Regions from separate parts of the Homo sapiens genome. Here region 2 is linked to region 1. A link means that fine-mapping ties the variant in region 1 to the expression of a gene that starts in the linked region. Tissue or cell type: monocytes after interferon gamma. Region 1 holds a variant in brackets; the other region holds the start of a gene. All regions are shown on one strand. Distances are from middle to middle.

What was found. PIP is the estimated chance that this variant, and not a neighbour inherited with it, causes the effect.
Region 2: it holds the start of MRPL42, and the variant in region 1 is fine-mapped to the expression of MRPL42 in monocytes after interferon gamma (Fairfax 2014, PIP 0.95).

Annotation. Positions count from the first base shown.
Region 1 is chr12:93,505,102-93,513,208 of GRCh38, forward strand. MRPL42 (mitochondrial ribosomal protein L42) reads left to right here. Exons shown (of 6, transcript NM_014050.4): 6 at 1-8,107. It also overlaps the pseudogene RN7SL737P. Among named protein-coding and RNA genes, the nearest start is that of MRPL42, 42 kb to the left of the region's middle. The variant GA/G (reference allele first, on the strand shown) is at 4,671.
Region 2 is chr12:93,463,724-93,471,830 of GRCh38, forward strand. MRPL42 (mitochondrial ribosomal protein L42) reads left to right here and starts at 3,791. Exons shown (of 6, transcript NM_014050.4): 1 at 3,791-3,831; 2 at 5,469-5,632. The coding sequence starts at 5,563. RefSeq lists enhancers at 3,623-3,682, 3,743-4,012.

The sequences.
Region 1 (8,107 bases):
GTTTCTCAGCAACTCATTACAGTCTGTCACATCATGCCCTAATTCTACTTGCCTGTAGCTAAACACCTAATAACATTAGAACTGAAATGATAGTGATATGCAAGATAGCACGTGTGGTTTCCACATATTCTAAGAGGCATCTTCAATTAGATTCCAAAAATTTTTAAGAAAAAAAGATATAATGTGCCATCATTTTGGATGGTTCTGGGCACTTCAGGTAAACCCTTACTCAAAGAATACTTTTTCAGTTTCAATGTGTATTTTTAAAATTTCCAGAAGATGAGTTGAATATCAGCCCACAAACACTGGTAGTAAGCAAACTATTTTATTTGCTAAAGGCATAAATAAATGTCTCCTTTGCTTTTAGGCAAAGGGAATGCTTCTTCAGATTTTTTTTTTTCCCCAGAAGTTCAAAATAACTTGCTCATAGTCTTCCCAAAATAATTTTCAAACATTCTAACACCAAAGAAAGATACTCCCAATTGAGCTCAGCCATCAGCCTCCTACTATTTTTTAATGTGCTGTTTAACCTTGTGAATGTGAGAATATTTTGAATGCACTGGGAAGGAATACTCAGGAACAATATGTAATGTGCTTTCTAGTTTTGCACAAAGGCATTCATTTTGATTTAGTAACAACCTCATACTTACATAGCATATCCTTCTGCAGAAATGCTTCACAGCCATGACTGCTTGAATTCTTGTCATGTTGCTTGTAAATGAGCTCCTGTTTTTAGATGGAGAAATGGAGGCAGAGTCTCACAATTACATGTGAGAATAGCAAGTAGAACCTTATGATTACTTCTGAGTCTTTTTTTTTTTTTTTTTTTTGAGATGGAGTTTCACTTTTGTCACCCAGGCTGGAGTGCAGTACAGTGGCCAGTGGCATGATCTCAGCCCACTGCAACCTCCGCCTCATAGGCTCAAGCAATTCTCCTGCCTCAGCCTCCCGAGTAGCTGGGATTATGAGCGTGCACCAGCATGCCTGGCTGATTTTTTGTATTTTCAGTAGAGATGGGGTTTCACCACGTTGGCCAGGCTGGTCTTGAACTCCTGACCTCAGGTGATCTGCCCACCTTGGCCCCCCAAAATACTGGGATTACAAGGGTGAGCCACTGTGCCCAGCCTCTTCTGAGTCTTCAATTCAGCAAGAATGTCTCTTTTTTTTTTTTTTTTTTTTTTGGGACAGAGTCTTGCTCTTGTTGCCTTGGCTGGAGTGTAGTGGCACATTCTCAGCTCACTGCAACCTCCACCTCCCGGGTTCAAGCGATTCTCCTGCCTCAGCTTCCCAAGTAGCTGGGACTATAGGCATGCAACACCATGTCCGGCTAATTTTTTGTATTTAGTAGAGATGGGGTTTCTCCATGTTGGTCAGGCTGGTCTCAAACTCCTGACCTCAGGTGATCCACCTGCTTTCGCCTCCTGAAGTGCTGGGATTACAGGCATGAGCCACCACGCCCGGCCAAGAATGTCTTTTCTTTATAATGTTGTCTCTAAGCATGTAATCTTTTCGGCAAATTTTATTAAGCACCTATAGAGTTCAAGCCACTGTGGGTTCAAAGATAGCCCTCATTCCTGATTGACAAAGTATCTTGCTATGACCATCCCTTCTTTCCCCTCTAGTCAAAATTAGTCTCTTCTTCACTCATAATGCAAAGTACATTGGATTACTATTATGCCACTTACTTGAATAATTGTCTTGATGAGTAATATATGTAGTCAGTAACATGGTTAAGTGTGGCAATTTGGATTGATCCCATTGGACTTTTCAATTGCTGCATCCAGGTGTAATTACCATAAGAGCATAGAAGATAGAATCGTAAAGCTGAAAGACATCTTAAAGATGATTTTTGGGGACTGATTTGGAAACAGATCCAAAGACACTAATTGACTTGCCCAAGATCACAGATTGTGGCAGAACCAACCAATGTCTTTTTTAAACATTAAGGACATCTTATATGTATATTTATGCATATACATACTGATGAAATGTGCCTTTAGCAATAGATGTGTCCAGTGATGTACTAATGAAGATTTAACAACTGGTTCTAACTTGTAATGTTTGCCAGTTTCCATGACTGGGTCTTACAAGTTGTTGTGCACTGACTCCATCATTCCACTGGATGTGCCCCTGAAATCATATATTTACTACTAAAACCATTAGATTGTTTCCTTGTTCCAGTTATGCATTCAGAGACACTCCACCTTATTTTCTGATTACATTTGCAGGGAGAAATAACTCCTTACTTGTCAGTTTCAGCCTTCACTTTTAGTTTCTTTTTCTTTTCCTTTTTCCAACCCAGTATACCTTAGAAACTTTCAGTTTCTTTTAAGGATTTAATAACTTGCTTATAAGTGTTTAAAATGACTTAATGGGTTCTATCTTTTAAGGGAACTTTGGATGAATCCTTGAATATCAGTTATCTATTGCCAATTAACAAATCACCCCAAAGCTCATTGGCTTAAAACAACAATCTTTCATTAGTTTGCGTTCTTCCAGGTAATTCTTATAGTCTGGATCCAGCTCAGCTTATCTTGGCTGGACTTGCCCATGCAGCTGAGGTCACTAGTTGGGTTGTTGAGGCTGGCTAGTCCTAGATGGTGTCACTCATATGTCTGGTATTGAGTGACTGTCACCTGGGGCATTAGGGGGACTGTGTCTCTCATCATCCAGCAAGCTAGGCCTGGATTCTTCACATGGCTTTAGGATTTCAAGAGTATGAGATTGGGGCTGGGCATGATGACTCACACCTGTAATCCCAGCACTTTGGGAGGCCAAGGTTGGGGGATTTCTTGAGCCCAGGAGTTCAAGACCAGCCTGGGCAACATAGTGAGAGCCCATCTGTAAAAAAAAAAATTTTTTGAGATGGAGTTTCGCCCTTGTTGCCCAGGCTGGAGTGCAATGGCGCAATCTCAGCCCACCAGAACCTTTGCCTCTTGGGTTCAAGCGATTCTCCTGCCTCAGTCTCCTGAGTAGCTGAGATTACAGGCATGAGCCACCACGCCCAGCTAATTTTGTATTTTTAGTAGAGATGGGTTTCTCCGTGTTGGTCAGGCTGGTCTTGAATTCCCCACCTCAGGTGATCTGCCTGCCTCAGCCTCCCAAAGTGCTGGGATTACAGGTGTGAGCCACCACGCCTGGTCTTCTACAAAAAAATTTTAAAAAATTAGCTGGGGGTGGGGAGGGTGGGGTGGTGCTGCATGCCTGTAGTCCCAGCTATTTGGGAGGCTGAGATGGGAGGATTGCTTGAGCCCATGAGATTGAGGCTGTAGTGAGCCATGATTGTGCCACTGCACTCTAGGCTGGGCAACAGAACAAGCACCTGTATCAAAACAAACAAAAAAGTGCAAGATTGGAAGCTTCGAGGCTTCTTGAGGCCTAGTCTCAGAACTGGCACAATATCACTTCATAAGGCTATCTCAGATTCAAGGGAGTAAGAGGAGAGATGCTACCTATTAAAAGGAGAAGCAGCAAATACTATGGCCATTCTCTTCACAATAGTTGTCACCAAAACGTAATCGATTTGTTTATGGGTTTACATTGTCATGTCTCCACAGGACAATGCACATGGTATGTTTGTCAGAACCCAGTTGGAGTTTTGTTTCCCAGCATCCAAAGGAAATCCCTAACTTTCATTTTTTCTTCCCGTAAGCAGCCCCGAACACTTACTTATAAGCCATCTCTACCTGAATTAGCAATCATGGATAAGCTCAATAACTGATCATTTCCTTATCAGTTTAAACCATATATATTTTAACACTGTCTCTTTTTCACACACACTAGTTAGCTAAGAATGAGCTGGGGGGCTGGGCGTGGTAGTTCACACCTGTAATCCCAGCACTTTAGGAGGCGGAGGTGGGCGGATCACTTGAGGTCAGGAGTTTGAGACCAGCCTAGCTAACATGGTGAAACCCCGTCTCTACTAAAAATGCAAAAATTAGCTGGGTGTGGTGGCAGGCATCTGTAATCCTAGCTACTCAGGAGGCTGAGGCAGGAGAATCCCTTGAACCCAGGAGGCAGAGGTTGCAGTGGGCCAAGATCACACCACTGCACTCCAGTCTGGGTGATAAAACGAGATTCCGTCTCAAAAAAAAAAAAAAAACTGCCAAAACGCTTTTTGCAAAGTGGTTGTACCATTTTATATTCTCACCACCATGAATGAAAGTTCCAATTGCTATATTCTTGCCCTCATTTGATAATATTTTTAGTTTTAGCCATTCTAATGGATATATAGTAATAATTTGATGGTTTTAATTTGCATTTCTCTGATGATCAATAACATTAAGTTTTGATTCAGGTACTTGTTGGGCACTCATATCTTTGGTGAAATATCTGTTCAAATCATTTGCTCTTTTTTTTTTCTTAGCACTTAAAAAAGACTTTTTGCCAGGCACAGTGGCACATGCCTGTAGACCTAGCTACTCAGGAGGCTAAGACAGGAGGATCACTTGAGTCCAGAAGTTCTGGGTTGTAGTGAGCTATGTCAATCAGGTGTTTGCACTAAGTTCAGCATAAATGTAGTGACCTCCTGGGTCACTGGGACCCAGAGTTGCCTAAGGAGCGTCAGAAGTGGAGCAGGTCAAAACTCCTGTGCTGATCAGTAGTGGGATCACACCTGTGAATAGCCACTGCACTGCAGCCTGGGCAACATAGTGAGATCCTCATCTCCT[GA/G]AAAAAAAAAAAAACTTTAGTTTTTAAAAGTAGTTTTAGGTTCTGAGCAAAATTGAGAGGAGGGTACAGAAATAACTTATATATCCTCAGTGCTCCCCTCCCCCATGCCTCCCTCATCACCATCCCCCAGCAGAGTGGCACATTGGTTACAATTGATAAACCTACACTGACACATCATTATCACCCAAAGCCTATTGTTTCCATTAGGGTTCACTCTTGGTGCTGTACAATCTATGGGTTTGAACAAAGGTACAATGACATGTATCCATCTTTATAGTCATGCAGAGTCTACACTGTCCTAAAAACCCTTGGCTCTGCCTCTTCGTCGTGTCCTCCCCACTGACCCCCGGCTACCACTGGTCTTTTCACTGTCTCCGTAAGTTTTTCCTTTTTCAGAACGCCATATAGTTGGAATCATAAAGTATATATAGCCTTTTCACATTGGTTTCTTTCACTGGATAATATGCATTTGTTTCCTCTATGTCTTTTCACAGTTTGATAGCTCATTTCTTTTTAGCATCGAGTAATACTCCATTGTCTGGGTGTACAACAGTTTATCCATTCACCTGCTGAAGGACATCTTGGTTGATTGCTTCCAAGTTTTGGCAATTATGAATAAAATTGCTATAGATATCCATGTGTAGGTTTTTGTGTCCATTTAAGCTTTCAACTCCTTTGGGTAAATACCAAAGAGCACAATTGTTGGATTGAATGCTAAGAGAATGTTTCGTTTTGTAAAAAACCACCAAACTGTCCTACAGAGAGGCTGTACCATTTTGCATTCCCACCAGCAGTGAATAAGGGTTCCTATTGCTCAACATCCCTGTCAGCACTTGGTGTTAGTGTTCTGAATTTTGGCCATTCTAAAAGGTGTGTAGTGGTGTCTCACTTGTTTTGTGTTTTTCTCTGCTCAGACAGCTCATCCACATCACATTTATTTTAATTTGCATTTCCCTGATAATATGTGATATGGAACATCTATTTACTCATTATTTTTTCTTCTTATGATTGAAGTTATAATATTTCTTTAAATATTTTGGATAAATCTTTTGTCAGATATATGCACTGGAAATATTTTTATGGGGGACCAGTGTTAAGATTAGATCTGTTTAAAGAGAAAGGAGAGAAAGTTTCAGGCAGGGAATGCAATCGATGTGAAGGTTTGGGGTAATTTGTTTCATTTATCTTTAACACCATGTTATGGATGGCAAAATAACTTCACTGGCTTTTTTTATCAAGAAAAGACTTACCTTTTCTGAATGCAACAGTATTAGTAAACCTAATGGTGACAATAAAAGCGATTCTGAATAAATGAAAACCAATAGATTGTTCTAGTTTTACTCATAAATATAATTCTTCATATACTGAGTTCAGTTTTTTAGCCATAAATGAAGACATGGGAAAACCATAACATGTTATTTGCTGAGAAGTTCTGGCAAATGAAGCAATAAAATAATCAAAACTAAATCAACATTTAAATACAGAACATAAAGAGATAAATCCAAAACCAGAAGATCTCTTTGAAAGAAAAACCTAAGTAATTAAAAAACTGAAAGCACAGATATTCATTATTTCACAAATAAACGTTAATGCTTTTTAGACATCTTTAAGCAACTTTAGATTGCTAAAACTAAAAAATGCAATTAAGACAATAATCTTATATATAGACAATAATTGTCTTAATAATAATCAGCATCAAAGATTCTTAGAAATGTTGGGAGACTGTGTGGCAAAGAAAGTACTTCAATTACCAGTTACCAACACACAACAATTTGAAATATCCAGGAAGATCAACCCATAGAACAAAGAAAGCTAATAAATTACCTTTTCTTGCAATTGGTTTGATGTACCATTAATATATAGATATTACTAATATGGCAATTAGTTTATATGCTATTTGAATATGATAGTAATATGAAGGAAGATTCTCTTTTTTCCACTTCATTGCCAACAAACAGCTAACTCTAAACAACAGTAAAGTGTGGAATAAATTACTTTGTTAATTAATGTGGTTTGAAGCTTTGTAGGAATCCAATTGGATGGATAGCAGCAGTGGTAAGAGAACATTCCGGAATAATTACCTAAATTAAGGAGCTTGCCCTAGAATGTAAATCAACCTACTATATCTTTTTATTTGAAAAAGTCTTGGTAGAAAAAGCATATCAACTGAACTGTACAGTGTGTTCAGTGACTTAGTAAAGAACATAACTTGTGTAAAGGCTAATGCAATAAGTTTGAGATTGTTCTCTTTATGTAATAGTTTGGAAAACAAACAACTGTGATTACATTTAGAGATATGATGATTATCTAGAGGGAAAGTTCTGTTGAGCATATTTGAACATTTAATTATTGCTGCAAGAAGCCAGTTTGGTCCCAGCTTTATAAAGATATACATTGGGCTGGGTGCGGTGGCTCATGCCTGTAATCCCAGCACTTTGGGAGGCCGAGGCAGGCGGATCACCTGAGGTCAGAGGTTCGAGACCAGCCTGGCCAACATGGTGAAACCCCATCTCTACTAAAAATACAAAAATTAGCTGGGCGTGGTGGCACACACCTGTATTCCTTGCTACTCGGGAGGCTAAGGCAGGAGAATCGCTTGAACCCAGGAAGCAGAGGTTGCAGTGAGCCAAGATTGTGCCACTGCACACCAGCCTGGATAAAAAGAGTGAAACTCTGCCTCAAAATAAAATAATAAAATGAAATAAAGATATAAATTGGCCAGCTAGAGTTACCTGAAGTTACTATCTTCAATTATCTGAAGACAGTTCTGATAGCTTCAGAATTCTTTCATACAAGGCAGGAATGCAACTTGTTTTTTAATGGCAGATAAAATCAAAGAGCAAAAGCAAAAGGTAGAAGCTTGAAAGACCAGAGTTGCTACAGATTGTTATTACATGTTCCATAATTTAACAATTGTCATTGAAGTTGGTGATTGTCTTGATATTGCACATCTGTAAGAAGTAATCAAACTATTGTGAATTTGATAGAATGCTTTAAGTTTTATTTTCCAACAAAAGAATGTCTACATACGGCAAATTCATAGATCTGGAATCCATTTATGTCATCAAAAGAGGATTTAAATTTAATTGTAAGCTTATATGATACATTGTTCTAACTGGCAACTAATGAAGGATTAAAAATGAATTTTGAAAATACCACACCACTTGCTTCATTTTGGATAAAAGTTAAAAGTGAATATTCTGAGTATGCTGAAATTAGTTTAAAAACTTTTTTTTCCCATTCCGACCATTATCCCTTTGTAAATCTGGTTTCATCTTATGAATAATATTTTTTAAAAACCATGGAAACAGTTTAGATATACATCAATCCATGAAAGTAGTAGTATTGTCAATCTACCCTGGATTACATATTTTAACGAGAAAGAAACCAGCTCATTTGTGACATTTAGAATTTTTTTTTTTTTTTTTTTTTTTTG
Region 2 (8,107 bases), 41 kb before region 1:
GTCATTTTACTAGCATGAATTTAAAGCATTTGTAGCTGAGCACAGTGGCTCATGCCTATAATCCCAGCACTTTGGGAGGGTGAAGTGTGCGGATCACTTGAGGTGGGCGGATCACTTGAGGTCAGGAGATCGAGACCAGTCTGGCCAACATGGTGAAACTCCGTCTCTACTAAAAATACAAAAATTAGCTGCGCATTGTGGTGGGCACCTGTAATCCCAGCTACTCAGGAGGCTGAGGCAGGAGAATCACTCGTACCCAGGAGGTGGAGGTTGCAGTGAGCCGAGATCACATCACTGTACTCCAGCCTGGGTGACAGAGCAAGACTCCGTCTTAAAAAAATAAATAAATAAAATAAAATAAAGCACTTTTATGTAGGCCAATATAAGTTATTTGCTGGTATTTCAAGTTTGTATTTTTGGAAATTATACTTTTTAAGTTGCTAGCACTGACCTCTTAAGTTAGGAACACTTTGTGACATGGCCTCTCTTAACTACTCTTACATCACAGTATTTGTTTTCCTTCTACCTTTCTCACTGCCACTCCTGGGAGGCCCTTGCTAAAGGTTATCCTCCTCCATCTGATTTCTAAGCCTTCGAATTCCCTGGGGCCAGCTTCTAGGCCCTTTATCTTTTTTTTTCTATACCTAGTCCAACCTCTACTCTCCAAACACACCTCTTCAAGTACCTGCCTTTTGTTTTTTGTTTTTTTGGAGATGGGGCTCTCACTCTGTTACTCAGGCTGGAGTGCAGTGGCATGACCATAGCTCACTGCAGCCTCAACCTCCAGGGCTCAAACGATCCTCCTACCTCAGCCTCCTTAGTAGCTGGGATCACAGGTGTGCATCATCAACCTTACTAATTCTGTTTATTTTTTGTAGAGACAAGGCCTCACTCACTATATTGCCCAGGCTGCTGACTTGTTTTGTATCTCCACTGGAGTGTCTCAGAGCCATCTCAAACTCAACAACTCCCAAACGGAAGTATGCATTTCCACCATCATCAGACTCCCCAAACCTGTTCCTCTTTCAGTCTTCCTTGTCTTATGAAGGGCACCACTGTCAACTAGTCATCAAAGCATCACCTGAAGTATCTTCCTCCCTCTCAATCAATCCATCAGCAAGTTAAGTCATCACTTCCAATTTCAAAATACATCTGGACTCTTCCTGTCTCTCCATCTCCACTGCCACCACCCTCCATCACATGATTTCTTGACTGCAGTACTGCAGTAGCTTCCTTGCTAGACTTGCCTGCGGTCTTGCCACTCTCCAAACCACTCCTCCCAGGGCAGCCAGAGTAACCTTTTAAAAATGGAAATCAAATTATGTCACTTCTTTCATGTAAAAATCTCAAGAGACAGGGCTCACTCTGTCACCCAGGCTGGAGTGCACGGCACGATCATAGCTTACTACCGCCTTGACCTCCTGGGCTCAAGCAATCCTCCCACTTCAGCCTCCCATTCCCAGGGTAACTAGGACTACAGGCACACAGCACCACCTACTCTATTTAATCTCTACATATGTCCTGTGTCCTAACTCCATGTTAACCCCTCCAAGGCTTATGAAGCCCAACATGACCTGGCTCCAAATCTCATCTCCTGCCGCTCTCATCCACACTATCCACCCTACTCCAGTATATGGTAAGCTATTTCCACCACATTAAACCTTTGTGTAAGTTGTTCCCTCACTCAGCCTAAACCTGTCTCTCCCCTCTCTTCCCCCAAAAATGTTGGTTTCTTTTCTGGTCTCAGCTTTGTGAGACCTTCCTTGGTCCCACTAAGTGAGTCTCCCTGTTGGGGACTGGTCCCACTCTGCTCACAGCCATCAAGACTTGACCTCTGGAATTATCTTTGATCCATTCTTCTTACACTTTACGCAGGGAATGTTCAACCAGTCCAGTTGACTGCTCATTCAAATCTGTTTCTCCTCTCTGTCCCTTCCTATTGCACAGTCCAGAAAGACATCATGGGTGGCTTTGGAGGATGGACACGACTGGAAAGGACACAGATGGGCCCTCTGTGGGCTTCTATAAGAGCAAAGATTAGCCTCCTGATATTCCGTGGGAAATGAGGAGACACACTACACAGCCCGTATTTAGTTTTCTTTACTATGTGATGTGTGTTCACTTACTTTCAATACTAGTCACTTCAGGAATATGGTTCTTAACTTGTTGAGGGGTTTATCAATTCCCTGGAATACATAATAAAAGCTATAGATTATTTCTTAGAAAAATATACAAAAGCAAAATTTTGCAAATCATGGGAGAAGGGAATTTCCAGGCGACCGCTTCTGCTTTACCAGCCAATCATCTACTGTCTTGGATACTTGCAGCGTTATCTAGTCTTTTCATTCATTCAGCAAACACTTCCTGGAGACCTATAATGAGACCAAGCACAGTCTGAGATGCTGGGTTTGCATACAGTGAAGAACAAGATAGACATATGTCTCTGTCTTCAAGGAGCTTACATTATCCAGCATAAGAGACATTAAACGAGGTTGGGTGTGGTGGCTCACGCCTGTAATCCAGCCCTTTGAGAGGCCGAGGTGGGCATATCACCTGAGGTAAGGAGTTCGAGATCAGCCGGGCAAACATGGCGAAACCCCATCTCTACTAAAAATACAGAAATTAGCTGGGCGTGGTGGTGGCCACCTGTAATCCCAGCTAATTAGGAAGCTGAGGCAGGAGAATCGCTTGAAGCTGAGAGGCGGAGGTTGCAGTGAGCTGAGATCATGCCACTGCACTCCGGCCTGGGCGATAGAGCAAGACTCCGTCTCAAAAAAAAAAAAAAAAAGAAAGAGACATTCAACGAGCAAACAAATAATCAATATAAAGTCAGGTAATGGTAAATATTCTGAAGGAAAATAAAGCGGGGCATGGAATAAGGGTGGGTGAGGCTATTTTAATGGTGTGGTCCTTTCTAAGATGATATTTGAGAAAGACCTGTAAGGTCATGAGAAGAGGTCAGAGAAGCACATTGCTGGCAATGGGAACAGAGAGTGCAAAGGCCCAGAGGTCTTTCCTTCCTCCTAAGATGGAAAGCGAGGTCCAAGATTCTGCATATTTACTTCCTCCCATAATAGGTAGCCAGCACAGTTCTGAGGGCACAGTGCCAGGTTTTCAGAGTGGAGGTTCTCTTCAGGTTCTGATTTCAAACGTCCAAATCCTAGCCTCCACATTTCAGGGCTTCTCTGGAATGTCTCTTCCCCTGGGAAACTTTAACTCATCTACTAAAGAGCAATCTACGATTTCTCTGAATATTAACATAATTTTTTTAAAAAGTACTTATAGGTTTGCATGGTGGCTCATGCCTGTAATTCCAGCACTTTGGGACGCCGAGGCAGGAGGATTGCTTGAGACAAGCCTGGGCAACATACCGAGACCTCGTCTCTACAAAAATATTAAAAAATTAGCTGGGTGTGGTGGTGTGCGCCTGTAGTACCAGCTACTCAGGAGGCTGAGGTGGGAGGCTCTCTTGGGCCCAGGAGGTAGAGGCTGCAGTGAGCCGTGAGGGAGCCATTGCACTCCAGTCTGGGTGACAGAATGAGACTGCCTCACAAAAAAAAAAAAAAAAAAAAGCTTGTTACTTTCTAAGGGTATGTGTTTGGGGCAGTGATTTTGTTTTTCTGGGCACCTTAGTAACACTGCGGCCACGCTTCCCCAACTAAAGGTAAAAGTCCATAGCAACAATCCTCCCTTTCTCTCTGCACCCGGGCCGCTTTCCCGCGGAGACTACATTTCCCAGAATGCCCCGCGGGCTGGGACGGCGCGCGCAGCGCTGTTTCGTGGGACCAGGATTGAAACAAGATGGCGGGTTCGTGGTGAGAAGCCGTCAAGGTAACCGCTTCCCTCTACTCCTCCTGTCGAGGACTTCCTCGAAACTGGGCAGTCCCACAGTGTTGGTCGGCAGTTGTAGAGGTCTCCCGCCTGTCGTTCCCGGCAGGGCGAGGTTGCCTGCATCCCCAGCCTTTGTCCTTCCTGCAGAAGAGCCGGCATGTGGCTGCGCGTTTCTTATAGCGCCCCCTTTGTTCCCTGGCGGACGCCCGTGGGGAGGTGATGCAGCTTGTGGCTCTAGGGACTCCTTTAGGTCGAAGAGTTCTGGTGCTCTTGGTAGCCTGTTCCTCAAACCTCTGACCCTCAGAGGCTCTGTAGCTTTTGTTTTGGGGTTGAATTCCGGGCTGAGGGACTTGATCTCTGAAATGATCTTCCTGGGGTGAATAATCTGACTCCCAGCAGGGCGTGCTTTTCTCTGGGCTTCGGACAGAGGGGACCTAATTTCCCCCAAGATGTTTTATTCGTGGTCAGAAGTCATGGGTTTACGTCCCACGCATGTATTAAGCAGCGATATACTGAGCAAGTAATCGATTGACCTCTCTGAGCCTTTGTTCTTAATCTGAAATGGAGATGCTGCTTCACACACTTGTGAAAGTCAGAGCACATATTGTATATGAAAGTGGGTTGTAAACTAAAAAGCACACCTATGAGCTCAGGGTTAACGGTGTTAATGTACTGGCAGTGCAAGGTATCAGTGTGAGTGGTTTAGACTAGCAAATAAGAGGGCCTGTGTCCTAATTCTCTTTTATCACTATTGGGGGGAAGGGCACGGATACTCATTGAAGACTATTAAAAACAAGATTTAACAATGGTTATTTGTCATTTATTCACAACAGGCCATGAAGATTGTGGTTTTCCCCATTTTGTCATTGGAGAAACTGAGGATCGTTTAGTTAATGACTTGTTTAAAGTTTCCCAATTTGGCAGTGACTGACTCTAAAGTCCTTGGAAGCAAGACGTTTAAATTTTGTACTTTAGTTTCTTCATGAATCAGAATAAAGATACCTCACATGATTAATACGAGAGCAAAATGAAATGGTGGTGAAAGTACGTTGGAAAGTTAAAGACTTTGTACACATATAAGATGGTGAAATTTTATCTGGGACTTGAGGGCATTTATGAGTTCCTCCAATTGAGTAATAGGCTAAGGATAGGCCTTGTTTGATATTTCTTTATTATTATTATTATTATTAATGGCTCAGGGCAGACAACTATTTCATTTAATCAGAAACAGGATAGTACTGTAAATGATGTAGTATCTTGTGTATGGAACCTTGGAGGGTGTACACAGCCACACTAGCATTAAAAGAATGAATACTCTGTGTACCATTTGTGAGTGACTGTTTCAAGAGTAATTACACATTTACTGAGTATTCATTAAGTGGAAGGAGCTGCACTGGGTCCTGCAGAGAAGTTTGTATCTAAGATAAATAGTAATGGACATAGTTCCAGTGGTTCTGATCTTATATTCTGTCCATGTCGCTCTTCGTCCTGTTGTTCAATCATGTGGAATTGCCAAGTTGTTTAAAAGCATTGCTTCAGTTGACTTCTAGGCAGTGATTCTTACCTTGTTCTTGTGGTGTTTAATATAACTTAAATTTACCATAGGTAGCACTGATTTTTCTTTATCTCTTCAGCAGGAGTAGAAATTGGTATGCTTAGAAGCAGATTCTAAAAGCAGTTTCTCTTCAGAACATCTTTTTTCATACCACTTGATAAGCATCTTGAAACACCATGGCTGTAGCTGCAGTAAAATGGGTGATGTCAAAGAGAACTATCTTGAAACATTTATTTCCAGTCCAAAGTAAGTGAAATTTTTTTTAATGTTTAAAAACTTTTAAACTTTTAAGAATTAAGAAAATTTAAAGCATTTAGTTATTGTATATGCCTGTAATTTGCAGGAGTGTTTGCAGCAATGGAAAGTGGGAGAAAACCTAAATGTCAGTCAGAAGGGGAATGGATAGGTCAGATGTGGTGTCTCATGCCTGTAATCCCAGCACTTTGGGAGGCTGAGGTGGGAGGATTGCTTGAGGCCAGGGGTTTGAGACCAGCCTGGGCAACATAGCAAGACCCCCACCTCTAAAAAAAAATGTGGGTTGGGGAGGGGAATGGATAAATTATGGTACATCTGAACTGTGACTGTCATGTAGCTGTTACTGACATGGAAAGATCTCCAAATAGAAACAAAAAAAGCATGTCAGAACCACATCTATATATATCTATCATATGATCTTATTTGTATGTTTAAAAGATGATCCATCATATGCATGTGTGCATATGCATAAATGCAGAGGTAAAAGGTCTGGACCAAACAGTGGTTATCTGTGTAGCCCACTCTTGGGATTTGGCTGAGGGCAGGAGTAAGGGACTGGTCAAGGGTAACTTTCTCTTGTTCGATTACATGTATTACTTTTTTAGTATTTCTCTCTTTTTTTTTTTTTTAACGGAGTCTGGCTCTGTCGCCCAGGCTGGAGTGCAGTGGCGTGATTACTTTTTTAGTATTTCTTAAAATGTGCGAATAAAGGGTAAATTCACAGTCCCATCTTCCAAAGATAATCATTGTTAATATTTTGGTGGATTGTCATTGTGTTTTTTCTATGTACCTAGCCATTTTTAAAAAAATGAAATGTAATTTCTGCCTTTCTTTTCTAAAGAACTGTATATAGTTAGTATTTTCTCGAAAGCTTGTTAATACATGTTTGACAGTCAAAGCATGGACCCAAATAAGTAAATAGAGTATTAAAGTCTTTTTTCTCAGCCAACTGTGCTTTCTTTTTCCTTTTCCTGTCTGTAAACAGAGTTTATAGCTCTTATAAACAGCTCTTATAGGAAGCTTTCCATTTCTAAAGTAGACATGTATAGAAGGCAACAGTAGGTTTGCCTTTTTATATTAAACTATGTGAGCCAACTTTTTATTTTTATTTTTTATTTTAGATTCGGGCGTACATGTGCAGGTTTGTTACGTGGATGTATTACATATACTGAGGTTTGGGCTTCAACTGAACCCGTCACCCAAATAGTGAACATAGTACCCAATAGGTAGTTTTTCAACTCTTCCCTCCATCCCTCCATTCTGTTTTGAGTCCCCAGTGTTTATTGTTCCCATCTTTGTGTCCATATGTACCCAATGTTTACCTCCTACTTGTAAGTTAGAACATGTAGTATTTGGCTGTTTTTGCATTAATTCACTTAGGATAATGGCCTCCAGCTGCATCTGTGTTGCTGTAAAGGACATGATTTTATTTGTTTTAATGTCTGTGTAATAATCCATGGTATGCATATACACCACATATTCTTCCAGTCCACCATTGATGGGCTTGTTTCCATGTCTTCGCTATTGTGAATAGTGCTCTGATAAACATGCAAGTGCAGCTGACTTTTTAAATACAACTCTGCTTGACCTTGACCTTTGTCTCTTCTTTCTTATTTCCTATTTACCACCATTTGTAATTGAAAGTTTGCTTATTGAATTAGGGAGAAAAGAGCTATTTGAAGAATGGAGTATAAGTAAAGTAATAAATAGGCAATTTGTTATGCTTGAGACGAGGAAAATATTTTACTCAGTAAACACCTTTGTTGAATAGAATGCTCAAAAGTTTGCCAGATCCTACTCTATTTTATTTTATTTTATTTTTTGAGACTGGATCTTGCTCCCAGGCTGGAGTGCAGAGGCATGATCTTGGCACACTGCAACTTCTGCCTCCCAGGTTCAAGTGATTCTCCTGCCTCAGCCTCCCGAGTAGCTGGGATTATAGGCACCTACCACCAGGCCTGGTTAATATTTGTATTTTTAGTAGAGGTAAAGTTTCACCATGTTGGCCAGGCTGGTCTCGAACTCCCAACCTTAAATGATCCTCCTGCCTTGGCCTCCCGAAGTGCTGAGATTACAGGTGTGAGCCATTGCGCCTGGCCTAATTTTTGTATTTTTAGCAGGGGAGGGGTTTCACCATGTTGGCCAAAACTGGTCTCAAACTCCTGACCTCAAGTGATCTGCCCACCTCAGCCTCCGAGAGTGCTGGGATTATAGGCATGAGCCACCGCACCTGGCCACCAAATCCTGCTCTTATAGGAAGCTTTCCATCCCTGCTTCCTTGCTTGCCCCACTCTCCCATTTTTTAGGGCCCTAAACATAGAAACATTTATTACATTATATTCAAAGTAAAATCAACTTAGAATTCAGTAAATAGAACAGGACATTGCTTAAGAGACTTTGGATATAAACCAAAATAAGTCACAACAAAACTGCAATCAGCTTTTGATTATCTAGGAGCATTTTTGT